2 linked regions of the Homo sapiens genome follow. The protein of the gene in region 1 interacts with the protein of each later gene in a pairwise test. Each region holds a gene or a part of one and is shown in the gene's direction. Other genes may lie near its edges.

Region 1 (3,813 bases):
ACCGTGTTATTAGTTGGCAGCCGAGCGGCCACAGAAGAAAGCGCAGACGTTGCAGGGCCCTCTTTAAGCAGAGGCGCCTTCAACACATCTGCACTTGCTTGAACCCAAAGTTAAAAACACTGGCGTCGGTGCCCTCTCCCCGTCATCCGACTCACGGGCCTGTTCTTTCCATGCTGATGTTCGTCCTCGCTGCTCCCTGCAGGCCGCATGCGGGTGCTGAAGGTGCAGAATTCCTCTCCCCCGGGGAGGCGGCCGTGGACTCCTATCCCAACTGGCTCAAGTTCCACATTGGTATCAACCGGTACGAGCTGTACTCCAGACACAACCCGGCCATCGAGGCCCTGCTGCACGACCTCAGCTCCCAGAGGATCACCAGCGTGGGTAGGTGTCCTTGGGTGCACTCAGGGCCGTCTGTGTGCCGGCTGTGTGGCATCAGGGCTGCTGGGGCAGGCTATGTGTTAGAGAGGTCTGGGAGGCCGTTGCTCATTACGGCAGCGTCACCTCCTGCAGCAATCTGCACGGGCAGCGAGGAGGGACAGAGGGCTCGCGTCTCGTGTGCTCTCACACTGGATGTGCTCCTGATCTGCCGCACGATGAGCGGGGAGACGCCTGGACAGCCGGTCCACTGCGCTCTGCGTCCTCACCTGGGTGGTCCCGGGGGTGCCAACTGGATGACAGAGTCCTTCCCTCCTGGGGTAGAGGAATAGAGGGGTATCTCTGGCGGCGGTGACCCCTCCACCGGAAGCGTGTGCATGGAACTCTCCTGCTTTTCTACACACGACCCTGGCTGGGTGGGGAGACAGCCATGAGCCTGCTTCTTGTGGTTTTGAAGCCGTCCTTCGTCAGACCTCAGCAAGGCGCTGTGCAGTTTCATACTGAGGAGACATAGGCAGGGCTCAGGACGGAGGCCTGGGCCTCCCAGATGGAGGAGTTTGAAGGCAACATCTCCAGGTACTTTGGGATCTGCTGAATTGGACAAAAAAGGGCATCCAGTTGCTGATTTCAGGAAAATATGCCACTGCAGCTTCTGAGCGTGGAGGTTTGGTGCCATTGTTCTCAGCTTGTAGGCGATTGTTTGTGAAGGTCCCATTTGTCACCAGTGCTTGGAGAGGTAGTGAGGGCGGGGCTGAGGCCCTTTAGTGGGAGCAGCTGCTCCCCGGGGATTGCAGGGAGTGGGCCTGGGTGCACACAGCTGTGGGCAGGTGCAGAGGCCATGACAGCCTGAAGGCAGGGCTTTCTTTGCGCTGTGTGATGAGGCCAGCAGTCCCAGGCATTAGCTTCATGTGTGTCTCAGAAGCAACCTTGGTGCTGAAAGGGTCCCAGCAGCCTGGGGTTCTGTCCAGTTGCTGACACAGGACTTAGGTGTCCCCTTTCAGGCCAGCAGGTAGGTTCTCCTGAGCTCTTCGGGGCTGTTTCTGGCTCTCTCTGCCGGGTGCTGAGTTGTTTGCTGGGCACTCACCTGGTCATGGGGAGACAGAACTTGCAGCTCTCTCCCCACCCCTTGATCAGCTCACCTCATAACAGAGATCAGCTGGACAAGCTGGGAGTCCTCTTCCCTCCATGCTGCCTGGGAGTAACCTGAACCCCTGCCCCCCTCCAGGCCCCCCTCCGTGAAAGCGCTGCCTTTCTCCTGCCCCTGCAGCGGTCTGAGGGCTTTCAGCTGTGCTGGGGAACAGTCCTGCAGACAGCCACAGCCAGAACGTCCCTTCTGCCCCTGAGAGTGAGCATGGCCATTAAGGAAATATCCGATGCATTGATCAACATGTTTGTCCATTCAGCAGATTTTACTGGCACCTCCTGCATGTCAGACCCCCTTTCTGGGTGGTGGGGAGTTGAGGATGAGTTCAGCCTCAACGAGATCTGCTGCCTCTGTGGACCTGACAGCCCCAGGAAGAGACACACACGCACAGTGCCCGATCCTGAGGAGGAACGAGCACTTCAGAGCCGTGCACGCCAGCCAGGCCGTGTGGAGAGGAGGGGGCTCCACTGGGAGGGGCTGAGGACCTTCCACAGGGTCTGTCGGGCAGCTTACCTTCCAGGTGGGTCCGTCTTGGCAGGGAGAGGAATGAGAGAGCCGTGCACACCAGCCAGGGCGTTCGGGAGGAGCAGCACGCAAGTTAGAAAGTCCCCAGTGCCGCTGTCCGTATGAGCTTCTCTCCAGCTCATTTTCCCCATCTGTCCAGTGGGATCTCGCTGCGTGGGACCAATGCAAGGATAGGATGAGATGTGCATGTGAGCAAGCTTGTTAAATATTAACTAGTACTTTGTGCGTGGCCTTCCACAACAGTCCCCTCGTGTGCACAGGCAGGGTCTGAGCAGAGGGAGGGCTTTGTGGATTCCAAAGGCCACCAGGCCCTTGGCAGGCAACTGCAGCTCGCCACCTCCCTCACCGACCGGTCAGCTTTCCAACACCAACACTGAAGAGGTGTGGGAGTTCTGTGCCAGGAGCTCCCAGAGCAGCTTCAGGGAGAGTGTGGGGCCCCCTGGGACCTGGGGCATCTTTGCCCACCTTAGGAGTGCTTTGTCCATCTGGACAAGCTAGGCTTGGCTCACTGCCACCCCTCTTTGGTCCAGCTGTCCCGGGGCAGTGGTGCCCAGGCTGCCTGACATTGCAGGGGTGTGGACAGAGCCCTTGCCAGGGAATCCCTACCCCAGGATTCTGGTGTGGCCTCCGCCTGGGTGTGTCCTGGTTAATTCCTGTGCCTACTGAAGGCCTGCCCCAGCTGATCTCGCTCGCTCGCCTCCTAGACCATGCTGGCCACATTGGTTCTCATCCAGTCTTCTGGGGTGGGGACCCGTCCAAGGACAGGCTGGCTGCTCAGTCATTCTGCAGGGCCAAGCAGGGCCTGCAAGGACGATGGGCAGACACAGCCGCATCACCCAGGCAGGACAGCAGGCTCTGGCCCAGGAGATCTGGGGGTGAATCCTGGCTCTGCCAGCCATTAGCCAGAGTGGAAGTGGGCAAATGGATTAACGCCTCCAGCACCTGGTTTCTCACCGAGAACACAGAGAAGGTTATAATCTGGACCTGGTATAATCTGGACTCTGACTTACAAATCTGAATGCCAAGCAAAACCCATTCACTAGCGAAAACTGACTCAGGCTGAACGTATTTAGGGGCAAAACCTAAATTGTCGAGGCTAGTTAAAAGTCCTGATTTTTCTCTGTTACATTGAATAGTCACATGTTCCTCTGAGGAACAGGAGTGGGTTTAATTATGGGGTTCTGCCCTAGACCCGTGTGGGCATGCCATGATCCACACCATGCACCACGTGTGCCTTTGTCATCGAAATACCTGCAGTTCCCAAATACATCTGGCCTCACAGGGTTGTTGGGGCTTAAATGTGCAAATACGAGTAAAGAGGTGAGAGCGGAGCCTGACAGCGCACCTGCTGGGCAGGGTCTCCAACACTGCAGCATTTTGGGGGAAGCTCTCCTACTGGGTGGGGTCTTTGTACAGCAGCAGCATTTCAAGGTGGGCTGATCCTTCTCATCTGGGGAAGCCAGGGCTGGGCAGGTGCCTGAGCCTCATGAGGGTCTCAGTCTAGATGCTGGGCCCTATTCTCCCTGCTGCCTTGGGCTTGGAGATGCTCACAGGTGAGTTCTCATTTGTGAAGAGGTCTGTCTTCCTGAGGAAGCAGGGGACCCTCACCTGTGAACCAAGTGTGCCATGGGAGCTGCTCCATGTCCAGGTCCAGGTCTCCTGGTCTGCAGGGAACGGCACAAGAGGGCTGGCCTAGGCCAGGAGGATGTGATCTGTCCTAGAAGGGGGCTGACCTGCTTGCTGACCCCGCTTGCTGCTGCCTGGCTGGC
Region 2 (3,813 bases), on another chromosome or scaffold:
ATCCCAGCTACTTGGGAAGCTGAGGCAGGAGAATTGCTTGAACCTGGCGGGGCGGAGGTTGCAGTGAGCCGAGATCACGCCACTGCACTCCAGCCTGGGTGACAGAATGAGACTCCGTCTCAAAAAAAAAAAAAAAAAAAAAAAGAAAAAGAAAAGGAGATGCCAAACCACAATTAGGGCTGTGTCTCAGTGGCGTTTCCCTACATAAGGCAAGATGAACGGAAAGTGTTGCCTTCTTACCTGGCACCTCATGAGAGGGTAGTTGTCGCTCTGCTTTGTACCCCAGCTTCCCTTTAATACCGACAGTAAATTCATATCCCTTGGCCAGGTTTATTTTCTTCATTCTATAAAAATGCCTATTTTAGGAAGCTTACGTATAGTAGCACTTGCTATCTGCTAAGCATTGTGCTAAGCACTTGGCATGTATCATCTCATCTTCCTTATTACGTTCGTATGAGATAGATAATATTTTATCCCCGGGATTTTTTTTTTTTTTTTTGAGATGGAGTCTCGCTCCGTCGCCCAGGCTGGAGTGCAGTGACGCGATCTCGGCTCACTGCAAGCTCCGCCTCCTGGGTTCACACCATTCTCCTGCCTCAGCCTCCCAAGTAGCTGGGACTACAGGCGCCTGTCACCACGCCCTGCTAATTTTTTTTATTTTTAGTAGAGACGGGGTTTCACCGTGTTAGCCAGGATGGTCTCGATCTCCTGACCTCGTGATCCGCCCGCCTCGGTCTCCCAAAGTGCTGGGATTACAGGCGTGAGCCACTGCGCCTGGCCTTTATCTCTGTTTTGAATTCAAAATATTCTTCCAAAATTTGTTACTGCTGTAACTAAAACAACTGACCTACCAAAGCACTTTGGACTAATTTTCTTTTTTCAAATCCCTCCTCAGCGTACCAGTAATGTTCGATCCACATTTTTCAAGGACTGTTTATATGAAGTATTTGATGACTTGGAGTCAAAGATGGAAGATTCTGGAAAACAGCTACTTCAGTCAGTTCTCCACCTGATGGAAAATGGAGCCCTCGTATTAACTACAAATTTTGATAATCTCTTGGAACTGTATGCAGCAGATCAGGGGAAACAGCTTGAATCCCTTGACCTTACTGATGAGAAAAAGGTAAAAAGTAAAGCATTGGTCCCTTCTTCAGGCTAGTGGATTTTATCTTCCTCAGAAAAGCTCTTTTCTAGTTGGTATATTGGTATTTATGTAGAGCTAGAAAGGAAAAATTTTTTCCCTGGTTGGAGTTTTTGTTTTTCTTTTTTCTTTCTTTTTAAAGATCAAATCAATATACAGTAAAATGCATAGAACTTAAAAGTGTTCAGTTCTATGACTCTTGACAATTTCATCCAGTTTTAAAGCAAGATTAGAGGAAGTCACTTGAACTGTAAGATCTCTTTAGCACTTGACAGTATTCAGTGGTGTAATATTGATAATGCTGGTTCTATTTTAGGATACCTTTTTTTATGGCATCTATTGGAAATGTATGAAAACTACTTTATACTGATTGGAAGAACAACTTCCAGGCCAAGCGATGGCTGAATTGAGGTTAATGTTTAGTGGAAACCTCAGCAGACTTTGTTTTAGCATAGTCTATACTGTACCTACCATAATTATTGAATTATAGATGTTGATCTGTGTCAGCTAATGAGATGAGTTCTTAAAGTCTCATTGGTCCTACTCTGTGATTTTTGTAATGTTTTTTCCTACACTTTGTTTTCCTCAGGAATCTGCCTTTATGTCCAATTTAGAGCCCAACTAAGTAGAGTTGAATAGACAAGTGATTTGCCTGCTGGCATTCAGTACTACAGTATTGCCCCTGCCAGAGTGGTAGCTGAAATACCACTCTTGTGGTTTTGCTGACCTTGATGGCAGGATTTAAAGGGAATTGAATTTAGAGAAAAGCTGCCCCATGAAGACTAGTTTTCTCTGGTCCAAGTGTCTTCCGCCTACGCCCTCATATTCTGTATGGTCAGCTCCTTCTTCATTTATAACTCTCAACCTAGGGATCCCCTCCTGAGAGACCTTCTCTGACCATCCTATTTAAATTGGATACTTATTTTTTTTATCCAGTCTCTTGTCCGTTTCCTTTGTAGCACTTAGTATTAACTTGCAGCTTTTTTTTTTTTTTTTTGAGAGACAGTTTCGCTCTTGTTGCCCTGGGTTCAAGTGATTCTCCTGCCTCACCCTCCTGAGTAGCTGGGATTACAGGCATGTGCCACAACGCCCGGCTAATTTTGTATTTTTGGTAGAGACGGGGTTTCTCCATGTTGGTCAGGCTAGTCTCAAACTCCTGACCTCAGGTGATCTGCTAACCTCAGCCTCCCAAAGTACTGGGATTACAGGCATGTGCCTGGCCGTTTTGTTTTGTTTTGTTTTGTTTTGTTTTGAGATGGAGTTTTGCTCTTGTCGCCCAGGCTGAAGTGCAATGGCATGATCTCAGCTCACTGCAACCTCCTCCTCCTGGGTTCAAGCGATTCTCCTGCCTCAGCGTCCCGAATAGCTGGGATTACAGGCACCCGCCATCACGTCTGGCTAATTTTTGTATTTTCAGTAGAGACAGGGTTTCACCATGTTGGCCAGGCTGGTCTCGAACTCCTGACCTCAGGTGATCTGCCCACCTTAGCCTCCCAAAGTGCTGGGATTACAGGCATGAGCCACCACACCCAGCACAGTTTTTATCTTGGCTGTTTATCTGTTTTCTGACTGTTTACCCCATAGGAATAGTAACTTCACTTGGATAGGTATCATGTTAGTCTTTCTTACCCTCATAACTCAAATACAACCCTCATGTCTCAAATATGACAGTTAGGTGCTTGGTAAATATTTTTTTGATTAATAAATGATTGGGCTGGGCACAGCAGCTCAGGCCTGTAACCCCAGCACTTTGGGAAGCTGAGGCGGGAGGATCACTTGAGCCTAGTTCAAGACCAACCTGGGCATCATAGCAAGACCCCATCTCTACAAAAAGTTTAAAAATTAGCCGGGCATGGTGGTGTTTGCCTGTGGTCCCAGCTACTTGGGAGGCTGAAGCAGGACGATCGATTGAGCTGAGGCAGTCGAGGCTACAGTGAGTTGTGATCACACTGTTGCACTCCAGCCTGGGTGACAGCATAAGATCATGTCTCTAAATAAATAGGCTGGGCACAGTGGTTCACGTCTGTAATCCCAGCATTTTGGGTGGCCGAGGTGGGTGGATCACTTGAGGTCAGGATTTTGAGACCAGCCTGTCCAACATGGTGAAACCCCGTCTTTACTAAGAATACAAAAACTAGCTGGGAGTGGTGGTGCACGCCTGTAATCCCAGTTACTTGGGAGGCTGAGGCAGGAGAATCATTTGAACCCAGGAGGCAGAGGTTTCAGTGAGCCAAGATTGCGCCACTGTGCTCCAATCTGGGCAACAGACCAAGACTCTGTCTAAAAACAAACAAACAAATGATTGAAATTTTAAAACTAGCAGCTTCTATGCTATTTGTGATAAAATTTCCAAAGATTATGACCAAGTGTGTTCATGGATATCAGAAGCATAAGGACCTTTTAAAAGCTGAGGATATCTATCACATTTGATGTTTTCCTTCTCATTTCATCCTTGGGCCTCAAGATTTGCATTGTATTTTCAGCCCACATTAGGGGCAGTGTTGCAGTCTAATGGTTAAAGACATTGACTGGTAGTCAGAATGGGGCCTAGTAACATTCAAATTCTAAATCTCGGTGCCTCTTGACTACTTTCCTGATTCATAGCCTATTTCTCCAAAATGTGATAAGAATAAATGTATGCTGTCTCCAGTCCTTGGGAAAATGGAGCCATG

What was found.
Region 2: the proteins of FAM20C (region 1) and FAM118B interact in a two-hybrid assay, tested with the Homo sapiens proteins (one large-scale study listed by BioGRID and IntAct).

The regions. Positions count from the first base shown.
Region 1 is NC_000007.14:195,352-199,164, forward strand, and holds part of FAM20C (extracellular serine/threonine protein kinase FAM20C precursor), read left to right. Parts: intron 1-202; coding exon 203-381; intron 382-1,781; coding exon of another isoform or gene 1,782-2,149; exon of another isoform or gene 2,150-3,813. UniProt on the Homo sapiens protein: Golgi serine/threonine protein kinase that phosphorylates secretory pathway proteins within Ser-x-Glu/pSer motifs and plays a key role in biomineralization of bones and teeth.
Region 2 is NC_000011.10:126,249,611-126,253,423, forward strand, and holds part of FAM118B (protein FAM118B), read left to right. Parts: intron 1-895; coding exon 896-1,123; intron 1,124-3,813. UniProt on the Homo sapiens protein: May play a role in Cajal bodies formation.